Regions from separate parts of the Homo sapiens genome. Here region 1 is linked to region 2. The links come from fine-mapping of genetic effects on gene expression. A gene starts in region 2. The other region holds a variant in brackets. All regions are shown on one strand. Distances are between the middles of the regions.

Region 1 (11,715 bases), 380 kb after region 2:
CCAGCGATTCTCCTGCCTCAGCCTCCCGAGTAGCTGGGATTACAGGCACGCACCACCACGCCTGGCTAAATTTTTTATTTTTATTAGAGACAGGCTTTCACCATGTTGGTCAGGCTGGTCTCAAACTCCTGACCTCAGGTGATCTGCCCGCCTTAGCTTCCCAAAGTGCTAGGATTACAGGCGTGAGCCACCACACCCAGCCAATTTCCTTTAAAAAATATATAGATAGATAGATAGATAGATAGATAGATAGATAGATAGATAGATAATTATTTATTTGACAATCTTGCTCTGTTGCCCAGGCTGGAGTGCAGTAACGCAGTCATAGCTCACTACAGCCTCCAACTCCTGGGCTCAAAGTGTCCTCTTGCCTCAGCCTCCCAAAGCATTGGGATTACAGGCACCAGCCACCATGCCCGGTCAAAATGCATTTCTTCATATGGCTTCCAGGGTGCCACAGTCTCCTGGCTTCCCCCAACCTCACAGGCTGTTTCTTTTCTATCTCCATCACTGATTCCCTCCTATCCTTATTTATTTATTTAGAGACCAGGTTTTAAGACTTGCAATGTTTGTATTTTTGGTAGAGACGGGGTTTCACTGTGTTGCCCAGGCTGGTCTCGAACTCCTGGGCTCAAGCAATCCTCCTTCCTTGGACTCCCAAAGTGCTGGGATTACAGGCATGAGCCACTGCCCGTACCTGGCCTCCTGTCTCTCCTGAACGTCGGGGTGTCCTCAGGCTGTCCCCAGACATCTCATCTGCACTCACTCCTTGGTGCTCTTATCCACTCTTACATTCCGTCCAAATTTATAAATGTAGCTCAGACCTGTTCTTTTTTTTTTTGAGACAGAGTCTCACTCTATCACCCAGGCTAGAGTGCAGTGGCATGATCTCAGCTCACTGCAGCCTTCACCTCCTGAGTTCAAGCAATTCTTCTGCCTTAGCCTCCCGAGTCAGCTGGGTGGCGTGCACCACCACATCTGGCTAATTTTTGTATTTTTAGTAGAGACAGGGTTTCATCATGTTGGCCAGGCTGGTCTCGAACTGGCCTCAAGAGGTCTGCCCACCTCGGCCTCCCAAAGTGCTGGGATTACAGGTGTGAGCCACCACACCTGGCCTAGCTTAGACCTTTTCTGAACTCCAGATGCGGCACAGCCCACTGCTCACCCACAGCTCCACTGGGATACCTGGTGGGTGTGTCATGTCTAACCTAGCCCCAAACCAACTCTCCCATGGGTCCCCCCAGCTTGTTAATGGCAGCTCAGTCCCTCTAGTTGCTCAGGCAAATCATCACGATGTTCTCCTTGACTCCTTCCTTCCTCACACCCCAGATCCAGAACATCAGATAATCCCATCAGCTCTAGCTTCAAAATAAATTCAGAGACCGACCACGTCTCGACACCTCCTCTGCCTCCACCATCAATTCTGTCCTGATTGAAGGCAGCAGAGTCTTCACTGTGGTCCCTGCAGCCACACTGGTCCCTGCAGTCTGTTCTCAGCACAGCAGCCAGAGGGATCCTATTGAATCAGATCGTTTTACCGCTTTGCTCAAAACCTTCCAGGGAGGCCAGGCACACTGGCTCACCTGTTAATCTCAGCAATTTAGGAGGCCAAGGCAGGAGGATCGCTTGGGGCCAGGAGTTCAAGACCAACCTGGGCAACATGGCAAGACCCCGTCTTTACCAAAAACCGCAAAAAACAAAACCACTTCCAGTGGCCCCAGTCTTATGTGGAACAAAGGTCAGTCCTCACCATGAGCCACGAGGCCTCTAGGGATTTGGCCCCTCCTGCCCCTGACTTCCGGCTCTAGCCATACTTCCTCGCGCCTGCCAGCTGGGCTTCTGCTCGTGTGCCTAGAACTCTTCCCCCAGGTGTGTACCAGGCTCACTTCCTCTTCATGTTATTTATTTTTTGAGACAGGGTCTCACTCTGCTGCCCAGGCTAGAGTGCAGTGGCCCTATCGTAGCTCACTGCAGCCTCAAACTCCTGGGCTCAAGCCATCCTCCCACCTCTGCCACCAAGCCAGGCTAATTTTTTCATTTTAAATTTTTTTGTAGAGACAGGATCTTGCTATGTCACCCTGACTGTTCTCAAGCTCCTGGTCTCAAGCAGTCCTGCCTCCTCGGCCTCCCAAAGTGCTGAGATTTTAGGTGTGAGCCACCACGCCAGCCTCTCGTCACTTTAAAGTCTGTATCCCTCTGTCACCTCAGTACAGCCTTTCTCAGTGACCCTTTGGGAGGTTATAATGCTGCCTAGAACACTCCAGCCCTATCCTTGCCCTTATCTTTCTTCCATAGCACCTCTCGCCATCCGATTTGTTTACTGCTTGTCTCCCCTGCTAAAATATAAGCTCCGTGAGGACAGAGATCGTCATCTCTGTTCCTTGCTGTTTTATTTTGGTTTTGTTTATTTATTTGTTTGTTTGTTTGTTTTTGAGACAGAGCCTCACTCTTTCACCCAGGCTGGAGTGCAATGGTGCTATCTCAGCTCGCTGCAACCTCTGCCTCCCAGGCTCAAGCAATTCTTGTTCCTCAGCTTCCCGAGTAGCTGGGACTACAGGCATGCACCACCACCCCTGGCTAATTTTTGTATTTTCAGTAGAGACTGGTTTCACCATGTTGGCCAGGCTGGTCTCGAACTTCTGACCTCAAGTGACCCACCCACCTTGGCCTCCCAAAGTGATGGGATTACAGGCATGAGCCATTGTGCCTGGCCTTTTTTTTTTTTTTTTTTAAAGACATGGTCTTGCTCTGTTGCCCAGGCTGGTGTACAGTGGCGCAATATTGGCTCACTGCAACTTCTGCCTCCTGAGCTCAGGTGATCCTCCCACCTCAGCCTCCCAAGTAGCTGGAACTATAAGCATGCACCACCACGCCTGGATAATTTCTTGTATTTTTGTAGAGACAGGGTTTCACCATGTTGCCCCCAGCTGGTCTTGAACTCCTGGGCTCAAACAATCCACCCACCTTGGCCTCCCAAAGCGCTGGGATTACAGGCATGAGCCACCGCACCCTCACTGTATTTCTAGAGTAGTGCCAGGCATATGATAGGCCTTCCAGAAATATATGTCGAATGAATGAGTGAATATGAAAACAATTCAGAGCAGTTGTTCCCTGAGTTTAGGGAAGACCAGAGAGAGATCTGGGTGGCCCCTAAGAATCTGTTACCCGTGATCACGGTGAAACAGAAATAGATGACAGAGAGCAGGGGTGGTATCTTTTAGAAGAAAATAGGTGACCATCTATACTGGGCCAGTTCTATAGTTAGCAAGATGACATGGGAGGAGAGCTATTTTTCTGAGCTTTATGTAACAGATGTGGTTTTGTATAAATCACACTTCTGTAAACTGAATCCTCTCTTAAATGTACTAACGGAGATTGCTATTTAAGGGTATCGAATGCCAATGTCTTCTGTGAAATGAATAATAATCTCCTAATTTGGCCTTAGTGGCAATTCACATTTTCCAGAAAAAAATTTACTTACATCAAGGTATACTTGTCTGAGCTGAGAAACTGACTTCATTCTTCACATTTCCACCATCTTTATTCTTTGCTCTCATTCTTCCTTTTTGTTACTGTTTTTCTTCTCTTTTTTTTTTTTTTTTGAGACAAAGTCTTGCTCTGTCGCCCAGGCTGGAGTGATCTCGGCTCACTGCAACCTCTGCCTTCTGGGTTTAAGCAATCCTCCTGCCTCAGACTCCCGAGTAGCTGGGATTACAGCAGGCACACGCCACCACACCTGGCTAATTTTTGTATTTTTAGTAGAGATGGGGTTTCACCATGTTGGCCAGGCTGGTCTCAAACTCTTGACCTCAAGTGATCCGCCCACCTGGGCTTCCCAAAGTGCTGGGATTACAGGCATGAGCCACTGTGCCCGGCCACTGTTTTTACTTTTAGCTGAATTTTTTCTTAGACTCTGACATACAATGTTCTTCTGTAACATCACCTGAATTAACAGTGCCATGGGCCCTTCCGAGCCCAAATGAGTCCAATTTGGGGGTGGAGCAAAGGAATCTAGGGGTGTGTGTACAAACTCGGGGTACAGGATTCTCAGATGATATCCCGGCCTAGCCAAGTCTGGGAACCACTGACCAAAGGCTTTCTTTCTACACACAGCGATTCCTGCAGAAATAGAACAAAAGGTGGGATGTCAAGGATGTTGGGTGGGAGGCCAAGGTGGGAGGCTCACTGGAGCCCAGGAGGTTGAGACCAGCCTGGGCAGCATAGTGAAACCCCATCTCTACAAAAAAACTTGGAAGAAAAAAAAAAGGATGTGCTCAAGGGAGAGGCATCAGGTTTTCTAGTGCTGGGATGTGGCTGGGGCTTGGCTCATTCACTTGACAGAAAGGTCACTTCTAGAAATTGGACACTGCAAGAGACCCAGAGCTGGATAAGGGATGGTTCCCGTGCTGGGGGATCTCCTGTAAGTCAGGCATCACCCACCTTGAGTCTTCAGATCATTGGAGATAAGTAGCAGTATATTAATAAAAGAGAAGAGACAAAACTAACCTCACTGTTAGAAAGCTGGGGAAACAGCTGGGTGCGGTGGCTCATGCCTGTAATCCCGGCACTTTGGGAGACTGAGGAGGGCAGGTCACCTGGGGTCAGGAGTTCAAGACCAGCCTGGCCAACATGGTGAAACCCCCATCTCTACTGAAAATACAAAAATTAGCCACGTGTGGTAGCTCACACCTGTAATCCCAGCACTTTGGGAGGCTGAGGCAGATGAAACACTTGAGGTCAGGAGTTTGAGACCAGCTTGACCAACATGGTGAAACCCTGTTTCTACTAAAAATATAAAATTAGCCAGAGTTGGTGGCACGTGCCTGTAATCCCAGCCACTCGGGAGGCTAAGGTGTGAGAATCGCTTGAACCCAGGAGGTGGAGGTAGGTAGCAGTGAGCCGAGATCACACTACTGCACTCCAGCCTGGGTGACAGTGAAACTGTGTCTCAAGAAAAAAAATGAAAGAAAGAAAGCTGGGGCAACGAGAGGGTGGTAGAGGGCATGAAGAGAGGAAGTTGGGCAATGCTGGTGGTTTGTGGGGAGGGCGCAGCCCAGGGTTTCCCACTCTTGCTGACAAGCTGCCTATCCGGAAGGCTTCCCCCGG[G/A]AGCTCTGGCCAGGGCCATTACGAAAGGCCACTCCAGTCTGGCTCTGTGAATAGTGAAAGATCAGGATATGTCTGGTGGATTTACCCAAGGCTGCGCTTTCTAGGGAGGGTGACTTGCCCAACCAGTGACTATGATGAATGGGGAATGAGCCCTCTGGGTGCAATACCTGCCAGCGTGACTTTGCAGTTTGGGGTGCTAGGGAAGCAGAACCAAGGTTTCCTCCATGACGACAGGAGCAGCAGCCTTACAAGGGAGGAGCCCCTTTCGAAGCCACAGCTCCCTGTGGGTGAGAGGAGGGCATATGGGCCCGCTTCTCCTTTTCCCCAAGGCCTGGTGTCCGAGTCTCTTACCCTGTGCCCTACATTCCAGGCCCCTTTGAAAGCCTAAGTGGGCACCCCGAAGGTCATCACAGATGTTCTCTTATGGAGGGAGGCAGCTGGCATACGGGGAAAAGGAGACCAAGAAACCAAGACTCACGCAAGGAACCAGGCTGAGGCTGGGCGCGGTGGGTCACGCCTGTAATCCCAGCACTTTGGGAGGCCGCTGCAGGAGGATGGCTTGAGGCCAGGAGTTCGAGACCAGCCTGGGCAACACAGGGAGATCCTCACCTCTACAAATAATAAAAAATTAGTGGCTGGGTGCGGTGGCTCACGCTTGTAATCCCAGCACTTTGGGAAGCCGAGGCAGGAGGATCACCTGAGGTCAGGAGTTCAAGACCAGCCTGGTCAACATGGTGAAACCCCGTCTCTACTAAAAACTACAAAACAAATTAGCCGGGAGTGATGGTGGGTGCCTGTAATCGCAGCGACTTGGCAGGCTGAGACAAGGGAATCGCTTGAGCCGGGGAGGCGGAGGTTGCAGTGAGCTGAGATCACGCCATTGCACTCCAGCCAGGTGACAGAGCAAAACTCCATCTCAAAAAAAAAAAAAAAAAAAATTAGCTGGGTGTGGTGGCATGCACCTGTGCTCCCAACTATTTTGGGAGGCTGAGGTGGGAGGATTGCTTGAGCCCAGGAGGTCGAGGCTGCAATGAGCCATGATTGCACCACTGCACTCCAACCTGGGCAACAGAGCAAGACCTTGTCCAAACAAAAAAAAATAGTCATCTAAATGTAGTTACTGTTGTTCCCAGCATCAGTTAGATCAATCACTGTGCCTGACATATACCTCCCTGGTAAACATGAGGAGGAGGACACAGGCTCAGGCACCAGCATGCCTTACCCCAAAGTGATGGCCAGTAATCAGCCTCTGTATGTGTGGACATCCACCCTCATAGGCTGCCCTGCCTAGTCCAGGGGCCAGCAAACATTTTCTGCAAAGGGCCAGATGGTAAATGTTTTTGGCTTTGTGGCTTCCTGCTGCTACTATTTCTTCCTCCTCCTCGTCCTCCTCCTCTTCCTCCTCCTCCTCCTCCTCCTCCTCCTCCCCACCCTTAAAAAGCCAGGCATGGTGGCTAGCGCCGGTAATTCCAGCACTTTGGGAGGCTAAGGTGGGAGGATCGCTAGAAGCCAGGAGCTCAAGACCAGCCTGGGCAACAAAGTGAGACCCGGTCTCTACAAAAAAAAATTTTTTAATTAGCCTGGCGTGGTGGTGCGCACCTGTAGGCCCACCTACTTGGGAGGTGGAGGTGGGACGATTGCATGAACCCAGGAGTTCAAGGCTGTAGTGAGCTATGATCGTACCACTACACTGCAGCCTGGGCAACAGAGCAAGACTCTGTCCCTAAACAAGAACACAAAAACCAGTCCTAGCTCACAGGCCATGCACAAGCAGGCTGAGGCCAGGTTTGGCTGGTGGGCGGTGGTTTGGACCCCTAGCAGCCTGTCCTTTCTCATTCTTGTCTAGGACGATGTTACGAGATACTTTGTTTTTGTTTTTGTTTTCTTTTCTTTTCTTATCTTTTCTTTTTTTTTTTTTTTTTTTTTGAGACAGAGTCTTACTCTGTCGCCCAGGCTGGAGTGCAGTGGTGTGATCTCAGCTCACTGCAACCTCCACATCCCAGGTTCAAGCGATTCTCCTGCCTCAGCCTGCTGAGTAGCTGGGACTACAGGTGCGCACCATCACACCCAGCTAATTTTTGTATTTTTAGTAGAGACGAGGTTTCATCATATTGACCATGCTGGTCTCAAATTCCTGACCTCAGGTGATCCGCCTGCCTCAGCCTCCCAAAGTGCTGGGACTACAGGCATGAGCCACCGCGCCTGGCCATTTTTTGTTTGTTTTTGTTTTTGTTTTTTGAGACAGAGTCTCGCTGTGTCACCCAGGCTGGAGTGTAGTGGCACAATCTCGGCTCAACTGCAACCTCCACCTCCTGGGCTCAATCGATCCTCCACCTCAATCTCCTAAAGTGTTGGGATTACAGGCATAAGCACAGTCAGAGGAGAAGGAAGGAAAGGACAGGAAGGAGTAGTACAGTCTTTGTCCCTTTGAGGACAAGATCCACCTTTTTTAAGGGTGGGGAGTCAGGGTCTCCATCTGTCATTCATGATAGAGTGCAGTGGCACAGTCATAGCTCACTGCAGCCTCCAACTCCTGGGCTCAAGCAATCCTCCTGCCTCAGCCTCCCAAGTAGCCACCACTACAGATATACCACCATCCCCAGCTAAATTTTCATTTTTTGTAGAGATGGGGTCTTACCATGTTGCCCAGGCTGGTCTTGAACTCCAGGCCTCAAGTGATCCTCCTGCCTCGGCCTCTCAAAGTGCTGGGATTCCAGGCATGAGCTGCCACACCTGGCCACAGGGTCCACTTCCTATCATCTGTGTGCTCTCTCACAGCCCCTGGTGTGGTGCCCTGGATCCTGGCAGCCATGTGCAGGTGCATGGCTGTCCACAACTGTCTGTGAAAGGCCCTCTTGTGGTTGTATGGCAAAGAGCCTTACTATCTGTGTGGCAGCCTTGCCCTGCGTGTAGTAGGTATTCAGTAAAATCAGTTTCTCAGGCCAGCGTGGTGGCTCATGCCTGTAATCCCAGCACTTTGGGAGGCCGAGGCAGGTGGATCACTTGAGGTCAGGAGTTCGAGACAAGACAGGCCAACATGGTGAAACCCCGTCTCCACTAAAAATACAAAAATTAGCCAGGCGGGGTGGTGGGTGCCTGTAATCCCAGCTATCAGGAGGCTGAGGCAGGAGAATCACTTGAACCCGGGAGGCAGAGGTTGCAATGCGCCGAGATCGCGCCACTGCACTCCAGCCTGGGTGACAGAGTGAGACTCCGTCTCAGAAAAAGAAAAAAAAATCAGTTTCTCAGTGTTTTTTATCTTTTTTTTTCCTGTGACAAAATACATATAACATGAAATTCGCTATTGTAACAAATTCAAGTGTATAATTAAGCAACATCTGGCACATTCGCTATGTCGTGCAACCGACATGACTGTTTAATTTCAGAACATTTTCACTATCCGTAAAGGAAACCCTGTTCCCATTAAGCAATCACTCCCCACCCCTCTCCTACCAGGCCCCAGTGGCCACCAGTCAGCTCTCTGTCTCTATGGATCTGCCCATTCTGAGCACTTCATACAAATAGAATCACACATTGTGTCCCATTTCATGTCTGGTTTCTTTCATGTAGCATGTTTTGGAGGCTTATCTACCTTGTAACTGTGTGTGTGTGTGTGTGTCTATGTGTGTGTGTGGTGGTAAAATATACATACCATAAAATTCACCATTTTAGGGCCCAGCGCATGGCTCATGCCTGTAGTCCCAGCACTTTGGGAGGCTGGGACAGCCAAAGCGCTTGAGCCCAGGAGTTTCAGACCAGCCTGAGCAACATAGTAAGACCCCGTCTCTACAAAAATTAGCTGGGTGTGGTGGCATGTGCCTATAATCCCAGCTACTCAGGAGGCTGAGGCAGGAGGATCACTTGAGGCCAGAAGTTTGAGACCTGCCTAGGCAACACAGTGAACCCCATTTCTACAAAGGAATTTAAAAATTAGCCAGGTGTGGTGGCATACACCTGTCGTCTCAGCTATCTGGGAGGCTGAGATGGGAGGATTGCTTGAACCCAGGAGGTTAAGGTTGTAGTGAGCCATGTTTGCACCATTGTACTCCAGCCTGGGCAACAGAGGGAGACCCTGCCTAGGCAACATAGCAAACCCCATCTCTACAAAAGAATTTAAAAATTAGCCAGGTGTGGTGGCATGCACCTGTCGTCTCAGCTGCCTGGGAGGCTGAGATGGGAGATTGCTCGAATCCAGGAGGTTGAGGCTGTAGTGAGCCACGTTTGCACCACTGTACTCCAGCCTGGGCAACAGAAGGTGAGGCAGACAGTAGGGTGGAGGACGTTGGTTGGCAACAGGTTTGTGTTGGACCCTGGCAGTTACAGAAGGCAGCACGGTGTGGGAGAGGAGGCGCTCTCAGATGGACCTGGGTTTGAATTCTGGCTCCACTTCTTGCTGGCTGTACTACTTGCAAGTAGCTTGTCTTGGAAAATAGGGGCCCAGATTTCTTGCCCTCTAGGGACCAAAGGCGGATGAGAAGTAAATTACCAGTGCAGTGCCTGGGAGGAGGAAGAGGCCCAAGTGAGGGTCAGTGGCTCCTGCTACTACCACTAATCTGGTGACAATGGCTCTATGATGATTATTATTATTTTTGATCAAGAGAAGAATTAAAAAGACCCTGATGTTGGGCAGCAAATTCCAAGTGTTGTAGCTAGGACCAGAGCAGTCTCACGGAGCACAGAAGGCTCCCCACGGTGGGGACGCTCTGTTTGGCTTTCATGCCTCACCTGTCCCTCTACTCTCCCAGGCTCACCTGATCTCCATTTGGTTCTGTACTCTCCCTGTCATCCTCACTCAGGTGGTAGGTCCCAGCTGTTAACCTGAGCTATTGCCACCTGTACTGCAACCTGCCATGGCCAATTTTCTTTTCTTTCTTTCTAGTTTTCTTTTCTTTCTTTTGTGTGCATGTGTGTGTGTGTGTGTGTGTGACCCAAGTTGGAGTGGTGCAGTGGTATGATCATAGCTCACTGCAACCTTGAACTTCTGGGCTCAAGCCATCCTCCCACCTCAGTCTCCTGAGTAGCTGGGATTACAGGCACCTGCCACCATGCCCAGCTAATTTTTGTATTTTTAGTAGAGACGGAGTTTCACCATGTTGGCCAGGCTTGTCTTGAACTCCTGGCCTCAAGTGATCTGCCTGCCTCGGCCTCTCAAAGTACTGGGATTACAGCCTCTTTTTAAAAAAATTATTATTATTATTATTTGAGATGGAGTTTCACTCTTGTTGCCCAGGCTGGAGTGCAATGGCACGATCTCAGCTCACTGCAACCTCCATCTCCTGGGTTCAAGCGATTCTCCTGCCTCAGCCTCCTGAGTAGCTGGAATTACAGGCGCCCACCACCAGGCCTGGCTAATTTTTGTATTTTTAGTAGAGATAGGGTTTCACCATGTTGGTCAGGCTGGTCTTGAACTCCTGACCTCAGGTGATCCACCCGCCTCGGCCTCCCAAAGTTCAGGGATTACGGGCATGAGCCACCGCGCCCAGCCTTTATTTTATTTTTTTTGTGAGACAGAGTTTCTCTCGTCACCCAGGCTGGAGTGCAGTGGCGCGAATTCGGCTCACTGCAACCTCCACCTCGTGGGTTCAAGTGATTCTCCTGCCTCAGCCTCCTGAGTAGCTGGGACTACAGGTACGCGCCACCACCCCTGGCTAATTTTGTATTTTTAGTAGAGATGGGATTTCACCATGTCGGCCAGGCTGGTCTGGAGCTCCTGACTTTGGGTGATCCGCCCACCTCCGCCTCCCAAAGTGCTGGGATTACAGGTGGAGCCACCGTGCCCGGCCTCCTCTGCCTTTGTTTTGCCCTTCTCCTTTCCCATCTGTGCTGCCTGTTCTCAGGTTTTCCTTCTCTGGCCCCTTGCCTGGGGACCTGCCACCCCCACCCGGGGCACATCCCCGTGCCTGCTCCTGCCGTGGGACCTTTGTGAGCCAGCCTGGCCTTGGCAGCCCGAGGGCTGGGCTTCTGCCAAGAGCTGTGTGTATGTGACCTGACAGTGTCCAACTGGGCCCACAGGCCAGGCCCAGGCCCAGCTCCCCACACAAGCAAGGCCAGAGGGTTTCCCATTGGCCACTGCCTGGCTGGGCTGTCCCAGGCGAGCGGAGGATGGGGAGTGCTGGGGAGGGAGGAAGAGAGGCTGGGAGAAAGGCGCCCTTCCTGCGGTGCCTGCTGGTAATTGGCTCTCCGGAACCAGCCGGGGACACGAGGGCCTGCTGGGTCAGGAAGTGGTGGACAATGCCACCCTTTCAGGGGAGACACGGCTTGGTCTTAGGTCCTGTGTGACTCCAGGGAAGTCCAGAGAACAGCCTGTTCTCAGATGATGTTCCCTAACCCAGAGCCCCCTCCAGAGGTGAGACACCCAGCCCCGCACTGCCCGCCCTTGGTGCTGGGAGGGGCCCCCAGGCATTGGCCTGTGGCGGGGCGGGAACAGTTCAGAACCAAATGATGTCCTTCAGAGAGCCTGGGGCCGGGAGGGGAAGGGAGTAGATTTTCTCAAGAGACTGTGAATCACATACCTGGGACTTTTTTTTTTCTTTTTTTTTTTTTTTGAGACAGAGTCTCACTCTGTCACCCAGGCTGGAGTGCAGTGGCACCATCTCAGCTCACTGCAGC
Region 2 (10,581 bases):
ATCATGGGACTTGCCGAGGTCACGTGGGCTGGTTTTGAACTCATGCTTGGACCACGGGCCCATGGAGGCCAGTGTCTGACAGCAACCCAGGCCCACAGGGAGGAGGGCCAGGCATGACCCAACCCCCCACTTCTTTTTGCAGAAATTCACCATCACCTTGGCTCTGTCATTCTGATCTTTTCCACCCAAGGTATCAGCCGCAGTTGTGCCGCCATCATAGCCTACCTCATGCATAGTAACGAGCAGACCTTGCAGGTATGCGTTCCCCGGGCCAGGCTCGCACCACGGCCACCCCCTGGGAGGTGAGGTCAGAGCGCAACCTGGGAGGAGTGGGGCCCCAGCACTGCTTTGGGAGGAAGAATCCCAGATAACTCCAAGTCTAGGGTGCTCCCCAGTCCGCGTCACCCAAGGGCAAGGCCCCAGTGTTGCATGCTTGAGGCCTGAGGCTGGATATGCAGGGCTGGCCCAGGGACTCAGGCCAGGTCAGGCTGTCCTGCAGCCCCCACTGCTGTCAGGCCGTCCACCTGTGTTTGTTTGGTGTTGCCCAAGGGAGAACTGCTTGGAGTCCCAGAGCTGCAGCACAGGCGCCCACCCACTCCCGTCTATCTCCCTGTACCTTGGGCGCAGGGTCCAGAGAAGAGAGGGAAGCAGGGACCCATCGCAGCAAACCCAGGCGGAACTCGGAGCTCCTAACTCACAGCACCTTTCTCGAGGGCCTGCCCTGCCTGTCACAGCCTGTTCGTGATCCCCAGAGGGCTTGATAGGACCTACAAAGCCCCAACATTTGCCCAGGGATGTTTTTGGGGGAAGGAGAGGGACAAAGAATAAAACTCGTTGGCCAGTGGCTTCGGTTGTTGCCCCCATGTGCACTTTGGGGGTGAAGTTGTAGGCTAGAAAGTCCTTTTTTTTTTTTTTTTTTTTTTTTTGAGATGGAGTCTTGTTCTGTTGCCCAGGCTGGAGTGCAGTGGTGCAATCTCCACCTCCTGGGTTCAAGCGATTCTTGAACCTCCACTGCACCCTCTGCCTCCTGGGTTCAAGCGATTCTCCTGTCTCTGCCTCCCGCGTAGCTGGGATTACAGGTCCGTGTCACCATGCCCGGCTAATTTTTGTATTTTTAGTAGAGACAGGGTTTCACCATCTTGGCCAGGCGATGTGTGGGGTGGTGGTGGGGGATGGGTGGTTTACGATTCTTCCTCCAGGGCCTGTTCTGACCCAGCGAGGACATAGTAAGCCTTTTGACTGCACAGCTCTGCCCCTCACACCACTTTAAAAAAAATTGTGGTTAAAATATACATAACAGGCCGGGCGCGGTGGCTCACGCCTGTAATCCCAGCATTGTGGGAGGCCGAGGCGGGCAGATCACCTGAGGTCAGGAGTTCAAGACCAGCCTGGCCAACATAGTGAAACCCCCTCTACTAAAAATACAAAAATTAGCTGGGCGTGGTGGTGCGTGCCTGTAATCCCAGCTACTCTGGAGGCTGAGGCAGGAGAATCGCTAGAAGCTGGGAGGCAGAGGCAGCAGTGAGCTGAGATTGCACCATTGTACTCCAGCCTGGGTGACAAGAGCGAAACTCTGTCTCAAAAAAAAATATACACACACACACACACACACACACACACACACACACACACATACACACACACACACACACAACAAAAAAATTACCATCTTAACTATTTTAAAATGTATAGCTTAGGAGCATTAAGTACATTCACATTATTGTACAACTAATCTCCCAAACTTTTCCATCTTGCAAACCTGAAACAGCAACTCTTTACTTTCCCCTCTTCATCGCCCCGTGGGAACCACCATTCTACTTTTTGTCTCTGTGAATTTGACTACTCTAGGTACCTTATATAAGTTCCTTCCTTTTAAGGCTGAATAATATTCCATTATATGTGTGGAATTCACCAATAAACCCATCTAGGCTGGGTGCTTTCTGTTTTGGAAGGTTACTAATTATTGATTCAATTTATTATTGTTATTTTATTTATTTATTTTTTTTTGAGACGGAGTCTCGCTCTGTCACCCAGGCTGGAGTACAGTAGCACAATCTCGACTCACTGCAAGCTCTGCCTCCCGGGCTCATGCCATTCTTCTGCCTCAGCCTCCCGAGTAACTGGGACTACAGGCATCTGCCACCACTCAATTTCTTTAATATATGTAGGCCTATTCAGATTGTCTGTTTCTTCTTGTGTGAGTTTTGGCAGTCTGTGTCTTTCAAGGAATTGATCAATCACATTTGTGGATATGAATATTCTTCTATTATCCTTTTAATGTCTGTGGGATCTGTAGCAATGTCTTCTCTTTCACTTCTGTATTAGTAATTTGTGTCTTCTGTTTAAGTTAGCCTGGCTAGCGGTGTATCGATTTTATTGATCTTTTCAAAGAACCGGCTTTTGGTTTTTTTGATTTTCTCTATTGATTTCCTGTTTTCAATTTCATTCTTTGCATGGCGTATCTAGTTTTCCTAGCACCATTTGTTGAAATGACTGTCCTTTTCCCCCATCGAATGGTCTTGGCATACTATCAAAAATTCCTTGACAGGCCCGGTGCAGTGGCTCACACCTGTAATCCCAGCAGGTTGGGAGGCAGAGGTGGGCAGATCACCTGAGGTCAGGAGTTTGAGACCAGCCTGGCTGACATGGCAAAACCTCGTCTCTGCTAAAAATACAAAAATGAGCCAGGCGTGGTGGCACATGCCTGTAATCCCAGTTACTTGGGAGGCTGAGGCACAAGGATCACTTGAACCCAGGAGGCGGAGGTTGCAGTAAGCTGAGATTGCACAATTGCACTCCAGCCTGGGCAACAGAGTGAGACTCAGTCTCAAAAAAAAAAAAAATTGCTTGACCATATAGGTAAGGGTTTATTTCTAGGCTAGGCTGGCTATTCTATTCCACTAGTCTCTTTGTCTTCATGTCCATACCATACTGTTTTGATTACTGTAGTTTTGTTAGACTAAGGTTTGAAATCAGGAAGTGTGAGACCTACAACTTTGTTCTTCTTAAATATTTTTTATGGGGTCCTTTGAGATTCCATATGAATTTTAGGATGGATTTTTCTATTTCTACAAAAAATGTTGTTGGGATTTTGATAGGGATTGCCTTAAACCTGTGGATTACTTTGAGTTGTATTGGCATCTTAATAATATTAAGCTTTCCAACCCATGAACACAGGATGTCTTTTCATTTGTTTGTACCTTTAATTTCTTTCAGCACTGTTTTGGAGTTTTCAGTGTACAAGTCTTTTGCCTCCTTGGTTAAATATTTTATTCTTTTTGATGCTACTGTAAATGGAATTGTTTTCTTAATTTCCTTTTTGAATTGTTTAGTATATAGACATGCAACTAATTTTTGCATGTTGGTTTTGTATCCTGCATCCTTGCTGAATTTATTAGCTGTGTGTGTGTGTTGTGTGTGTGTGTAATCTTTAGGGTTTTCTACATATGAAATCATGTCATCTTCAAACCAGAGGTAAGGTTACTTCTTCCTATCCATTGTAGATGCCTTTTATTTCTTTTTCTTGCCTCATTGTTCTGGCTAGGACTTCTAGGACTATGTTGAACAGAAGTGATGAAAGCAAGCACCCTTGCCTTGTTCCCGATCTTAGAGGAAAAACTTTATCTTTCGCCATTGAGTGTGATGTTAGCTGTGGGCTTCTCATATATGGCCTTTATCAGGTTGACATCACTTCCTTCCTTTTTTGTTTTTGAGACAGAGTCTTGCTCTGTCACCCAGGCTGGAGTGCAGTGGTGCAATCTCGGCTCACTGCAACCTCCGCCTCCCAGGTTCAAGCAATTTTCCTGCCTCAGCCACCCAAGTAGCTGGGATTACAGGCATGTGCCACCATACTTGGCTAATTTTTGCATTTTTTTAGTAGAGACAGGGTTTCGCCACATTGGCCAGGCTAGTCTCGAACTCCTGACCTCAGGTGATCCACCCGTCTCGGCCCCCCAAAGTGCCAGGATTACAGGCATGAGCCACTGTGCCTGGCCATTTCCTTCTGTTCCTAGTTTTAGGCACCACTCTTGCCTTTCCCTTTTTCGTTTGTCCTCAATCCAGATGGAGACCAGGTGCTCACCCTCCTTCATGCAGCAACACTTCCTGTACTTTAAGGTGGATGCCTGAAGGAGGGCAGCTTGAATTTTCTTCTTCAGAGAATTTGCCCACAGTTCTCTTCCTCTTTCCATTAATTTGTCCAGTCACAATGCAAACCTTTGTTGAGACTGCACTAGGCTTGGCATAGTGTTTGCCATCCACAGGTGGTTTCATGTATATTGTCTTAATCTTCCCAGAAGCTGTTTGAAATAGGAATTATTTCTGTCACCAGATTTAGAAGCAGAGGGGCTTGCCCAAGGCAGAGTCAGCTCCCATGACTCCCAGCACTGATGCATTCATGCCAGGCTGCCCTGTTTCTGCATCCAGCCCTTAAGCCGTGTTGCTGGCACTGTGCAAGTGCCTCCTGTCTCTGAAAGCTGCCTCTGATCCAAGTGGAAAGGGCCCAGGACCAATCGTGAAGTTCACTTTCTCTCTTTGTATTCATAGAGGTCCTGGGCCTATGTCAAGAAGTGCAAAAACAACATGTGTCCAAATCGGGGATTGGTGAGCCAGCTGCTGGAATGGGAGAAGACTATCCTTGGAGATTCCATCACAAACATCATGGATCCGCTCTACTGATCTTCTCCGAGGCCCACCGAAGGGTACTGAAGAGCCTCACCTGGGGGCATTTTGTGGGTGGAGGGCCAGAGTGTGTATACCCAGGCTTGTCTGGAAGGAGAAGGCCTTTGCTGCCTGAAAGTCTCATGTTAGCCTCCTGTACTGATTCTTCCCAAGTGCCTGTTCACGCCACCTAGCTGATGCGCCCTGCTCAGGTTCACCAAGAACCCGCATCCCTGAGGTGTCGCGGGCCATCCCAACTGCACCCCTGAGGCTGCCTCTGGAAGAGCATCTGGCTGCTAGAGCAGCTGCCCTGCATCCCCCTGGTGACTTAGACCCTTTGGAGGCTGCCTGGGGGTACCCAGAGGTTGCCTGTGTTGGTTCACAGAGGATGTCACAATAGCCACCAATAGGCAGTCCCCTAGTCCCAGAGATACCAAGCCCAGCCTTGTCTAGCCCCCAGGCTCCTAGAATGGGATCACACCCTTGCCTCATCCCCAGCGCTTCCTGCCATCCACCCCTTGAAACAGATTTTCTTTCCCTGCTCCCCACTCATTTCTGCCTGGCTGTGTTCACCAAGGAGAGATTCTCACCCCCTCCCCCATCTCCCTATCCACGTTTCTAGAAATTCCTAAGGTCTTAAAAGTTTTCCTTTTTTTTACCCCCTTTCCTTTTTTTTGGAGGCACGGTCTTGCTGTGTCTCTCAGGCTGGAGTGCAGTGGCGCAATCATGGCTCACTGCAGCCTCAACTTCCCTGGGCTCAAGCGATCCTCCCACCTCAACCTCCTGAGTGAGTAGCTGGGAATGCAGGCATGCACCATCACACCTGGCTAATTTATTTTTATTTTTGTAGAAACAGGGTCTTGCTCTGTTGCCTAGGCTGGTCTCGAACTTCTGGGCTCAAGTGATCCTCCAGCCTCGGCCTCCCCAAAATGCTGGGATTACAGGTGTGGGCCACGGCACCCAGTTGGAAGTTGTTTTCCAAATGCACTTCTCCAAAGCTGGCAGCACCCACAGAACAAACTGGGCATCAGGAGACGGCACAGACTAGGGGACTGGTAGGGGATTAGGATGTCCATCCATGCAGGACCTTCCCCAAGTCCATTCGGCAACCATTCCCTGCCACCGCGTGGGTGGGGCTGGGAACAGAGAGATGAATGCCGTCCCACCACTTAGCGCGCTCTGTGGAGGGATGGGGGTGGGAGGGGGTGGGGGATTCCCCTCAACAGAAGGGCAGGCCTTCAAGGAGGAGTGGGGTTTTGCCAGAGGGGGAACGGCTTTACACACAGCCCTGGCTTTCCTCAGGGTGTGAGTTGGGACAGAGCCCGGGATGGCTGCAGAGCTCCGATTAGGGACCTCCTGGTAGGCAGGACACAGCCGCTGGAAAGTTTTAAGCATGAACATGATGGGGAATCAGCCTTGTGTTTTGGGAAGGGCAGTCCGGTGGCCGCGAGAAGGGACAGTGGAGGTGAGGCAGGGAGAAAGGAGGCCGCTGTAAAAATCCAAGCGAGAGAAGCAGCTCTAACTCCCTTCCCCAAAGAGGCTCAGCTTCCCAAGGACGAAAATGTTGCAAGCAGGTGTCACCTCCCTGCACCTTGGTTTGCTCTCAGCATGACGGGCCAGAGCCCTGCTGGCTGCACCACGCGGCTGGCACAGTCAGTGCAGTCCAGGCCCGGGGGCTGCAGCCGTCCCAGTCCCGGTCCAGGCCGCGAGTCCCGGGGCTAGCAACCGCCCTTGCATACGGCCCCGCCCATACCCCGCCCCTGTCCCGGATTGGCTGGGGTGGGGGGCGTGGCCTTTCCCCATTGGTGCCCGTGGCGGCGCGAGCCCGGAAGCGGACGGGGGCGGTGGCGGAGGAGCCTCGGGTGGGCCGGGGTTGCTGCGCCGTCCTCCACTACTGGCTACTGGCGCTGCAGCCATGCAGCCCCCGCCCCCGGGCCCGCTGGGCGACTGCCTGCGGGACTGGGAGGATCTACAGCAGGACTTCCAGAACATCCAGGTTAGCGCCGCTGCGGACGCCGGGTCGCCCCCGAGCCGCGTCTCGCTGGCTCAGGGTCAAGGGTCGGGCAGCCCTGGGTCAGGCAGTGGGGAGCTAAGGGTCAGGGGTCGGGGCCCTGGCGTCACTGCCAAGGGGGGCGAGGCCCCTGGTCCTGGTGTCCACTGCCACCACCTCCAGTGTCCGGGAACCCCGGCGGGACCCCATCGCGCTGGGCGACCTCGGCTTCCAATGAGGGCCTTGGAAAGGGGCCCAGACCCCGACCCCGTCCCTTCCCAGAAGAGAGCGGCCGCCTGAGTCACACACGGGCGGGCCCAGCCTTGGGTCAGCCACTCAGCAAACGCGCAGCGGGCAGCGCCCGAGAGGCAGCCCAGGTCGGGGGAGCAGCGTTTAGGGGGGTGTCCTCGGCCTGGATGGGGGACGCCCCAGGCAGAGGGATACCGCGCGCCGCCGAGGCCTTTGGAAGGAAAGAGGGGACTTGACAGGCCCATGTGGCTGCATCAAGGAGAACCAGGGGAGGGGTGGGACGGGTGGGAGGGGTGGGCGGGGCTAGGCCCTGCAGGGACGCTCTGGCCTGGCAGAGATCAGAGTCCCTCCGAGGCCAGTGGAAAGCTACGGGAGGAATTGTCTGGACTGAGCTCCCCAGGGCCACCGTGGCTGTTCTGTCCAGAGGCCAGGGAGGAGGAGGCTGTTGGCCTCATCCAGGCAGGGAAGAGGGCGGTGGCTGTGGGTGGGCAGAAGTGGCACGTGCTGGGGTCCGAGGGGGCGTGGTGACCCCTCCTGGGCATGAGAAACAAGATCCAGACAGAGTAGAGCCCTGGCCAGCTGATGGCTTGGTTAGCCCTTGGCCTCTCCTGGACTGGTTCCAACTGCTTCCTGTGGGCATTGAAACCCAGCTGCCCCTGGCCCTGCCAAGGCCCCTGCCATTGGTGCTTCTCCCCAGAGACTGAGCAGACCCAGTCTCCCCGCCTGGCCGCCGCTGTCCTGGCCACAGCCCCTGCTTGGCTCTCCTCACACTGCCCCTTGCCCCATCTCTAGGCTGCGCCTTCTTGAGACTCACCTACCAGGGCAAAGTGCTTGGGGAATCCTTGGGCCAAAGGTGCTAGGGGAAGGGAGTGGGGCTGGCCTTAGAGCAGGAGGCTCTAGGGTTGAAACCTGATGACCTTTAACCTGGGAAGAAGATGTCAGGGATTCCTGAGAACCTGAGCTCCTCCTGTACTGGAAGGCTAGATAGGCAGGAGGAGCTGAGAGGATAGAGGGGTGGCTCTGGGCTGCCTGCTTGGTCCAGGAGGTGGCCCTGGGGGCCTAAGCTCCAGACTCAAGGTAGGAGAAAGAGTCTGTCCTTGTAGGGTGGGGACAACTAGCAGATGGGCTGAGACTAAGAAAACCTTGGCTGGGTGCGGTGGCTTATGCCTGTAATCCCAGCACTTTGGGAGGCCGAGGCAGGCAGATCACCTGAGGTCAGGAGTTCAAGACCAGCCTGGCCAACATGGTGAAACCCTGTCTCTACAAAAATACAAAAATTAGCCAGGCATGATGGCAGGTGCCTGTAATCCTAGCTACTTGGGAGGCTGAGGCAGAAGAATGGTTTGAACCCGGGAGGCGGAGGTTGGAGTGAGCTGAGATCCTGCCATTGCACTTCAGCCTGGGCAACAGAACAAGACTGTCTCAAAACAAAAACAAAAACAAAAACACCTAGTCTGTTTTTGGAGGAGGGGTGCTGTGGGGGTCTCTGGGCTCACAGGAGGACACCCAGGTCCTTGCCTGCCTTGGGGAGACAGCCACCTCATCCCTGGGCAGGCACAGTTCTACCTCCTTTCCCGCTGAGCGAAACCCTCCCAGCAGCCCTGGGGGAGCCTGAGCGCCACGTCCTGCCTGCAGGCTCTGGCTCAGTAGCTCCCCAACTGGCCTGAGCCTCTCCCCTCCGGCCCCCAGGAGACCCATCGGCTCTACCGCCTGAAGCTGGAGGAGCTGACCAAACTTCAGAACAATTGCACCAGCTCCATCACGCGGCAGAAGAAGCGGCTCCAGGAGCTGGCCCTCGCCCTGAAGAAGTTAGGATCCCCTACCCCACCCGCCATGGGCAGAGTGTGGGGTGGGAGGGCTGGCGCTGTGAGACCCTGGGCACCGCCCCTCCCCTCTCTGGGCCCTGTTTGCCCTTCTGCCCCTGTGGGAGTCAGGGAGGACACTTGGGAGTCCTCTTGCCCTGACTGTTTCTGGCCTTACCCGCAGATGCAAACCCTCCCTCCCAGCAGAGGCCGAGGGGGCCGCACAGGAGCTGGAGAACCAGATGAAAGAGCGCCAAGGCCTCTTCTTTGACATGGAGGCCTATTTGCCTAAGAAGAATGGGTGAGGGCCCCCACCGCCACCCCCAGCTCAGTTCACAGCCACTCCTGAAGCCGGGTGCTGCCTCCTCTTGGTCATTATAGTCAGCAAATGTTCCCTGGGCCCAGTACAGGCTGAGCAATGAGGCACAGTGCTGACTTCAGGGGAGACACCTGGCTGAGAGTGACATTTCACTGTGATAGGTGCTTTGTAGCATGGGGAATGAGGTGGCACAGTGAGGGACACCTGACCCAGTCCAGGAGGTCGCAGAAGGCTTCCTGGATTAGGGGATGGGTGGGCTGAGTCTTACAGAATAAAGAGTGGGCCGGGCGTGGTGGCTCTCACCTGTAATCTCAGCACTCTGGGAGATGGAGGTGGGAGGATCACTTGAACTCAGGAGTTCAAGACCAGCCTGGGTGACATACTGAGACCCTATGTCTCTATTTATTTAAAAAGAACAAATAGGCTGGGCGCGGTGGCTCATGCCTGTAATCCCAGCACTTTTTTGGGAAGCCAAGGCAGATCGCTTGAGGTCGGGAGTTCAAGACCCGCCTGGGCAACATGGTAAAACCCATCTCTACTAAAAATACAAAAATTAGCCGGGCATTGTGGCATGCACCTGTAATCCCAGCTACTTGGGAGGCTGAGACAGGAGAATCACTTGAACCCGGGAGGCGGAGGCTGCAGTGAGCTGAGATCGCACCACCGGACTGTAGCCTGGGCAACAGAGTGAGACTCTGTCTTAAAAAATAAATAAGTAAATAAATAAAAAAAATGAGGCAGACACATGGGCTGAGGGCGAGAGGTAGCAGCAGGTGGACGGGCCATGAGAACTTGTAGTGGCCAGAGGTCGGGGCGGGAGGTGAGAGGCAGCCAAGAGATCAGAGGCTTTGCTGGGCTGCAGCTCTTGCCTTGAGCCCAGTAGGCGGGCGGGGGCGGTGGAATGTGCACCTGGAAAGGCCAGCAGCTGTCACCCAGGAGGACGGATGGGGCAGTGCAAAACCCCCTGCTGAGCAAAAAATCCCAGCAGAGGCTGCAGGCAGGGAGATAGCTGGGAGAGGGCGTGGCCCAGAAGGCAGGGAGAAGAAAGGAGTGTCCGTAGCCTGGGGTCAGTCCTGTGATAAGGAAGGGGATGCGCTTCCTGGAAGTTGGGTCATCTTGGCAGAACCATTTGGTGGAAGGGGATGGATGTCGATCTTGGGGATGACAGAAGAGCCAAGGAAGGGAGACAGCCAAGTCTAGGAGACTTTTTTTTTTTTTTTTTTTTTTTGAGACAGAGTCTCACTCTGTCGCTAGGCTGGAGTGCAGTCACTTGATCTCGGCTCACTGCAACCTCTGTCTCCGTGGTTCAAGCGATTCTCCTGCCTCAGCCTCCGGAGTAGCTGGGATTACAGGTGCCCGCCACCACACCCGGCTAATTTTTGTATTTTTGTATTTTGTATTTTTAGTAGAGATGGGGTTTCACCATGTTGGTCAGGCTGGTCTCGATCTTCTGACCTCATGATCCACCCGCCTCGGCCTCCCAAAGTGCTGGGATTACAGGTGTGAGCCACCGCACCCAGCCCTCTGGGAGACTTTTTAGAGCTTGGCTGTGAGTGGAGGGA

The links.
Region 1: its variant is fine-mapped to the expression of TMEM120A in whole blood (TOPMed, PIP above 0.99).

What each region holds. Positions count from the first base shown.
Region 1 is chr7:75,611,403-75,623,117 of GRCh38, reverse strand. All of the region lies in intron 1 of HIP1 (huntingtin interacting protein 1), which reads left to right. Among named protein-coding and RNA genes, the nearest start is that of HIP1, 120 kb to the left of the region's middle. RefSeq lists enhancers at 5,296-5,797, 11,086-11,659. The variant G/A (reference allele first, on the strand shown) is at 5,107.
Region 2 is chr7:75,990,564-76,001,144 of GRCh38, reverse strand. TMEM120A (transmembrane protein 120A) reads left to right here and starts at 6,550. Exons shown (of 12, transcript NM_031925.3): 1 at 6,550-6,655; 2 at 8,588-8,706; 3 at 8,885-9,001. The coding sequence starts at 6,575. STYXL1 (serine/threonine/tyrosine interacting like 1) reads left to right here. Exons shown (of 9, transcript NM_001317785.2): 8 at 143-255; 9 at 4,546-4,803. The coding sequence ends at 4,677. RefSeq lists enhancers at 1-340, 9,010-9,069 and silencers at 6,309-6,758, 6,769-6,828, 9,820-10,114.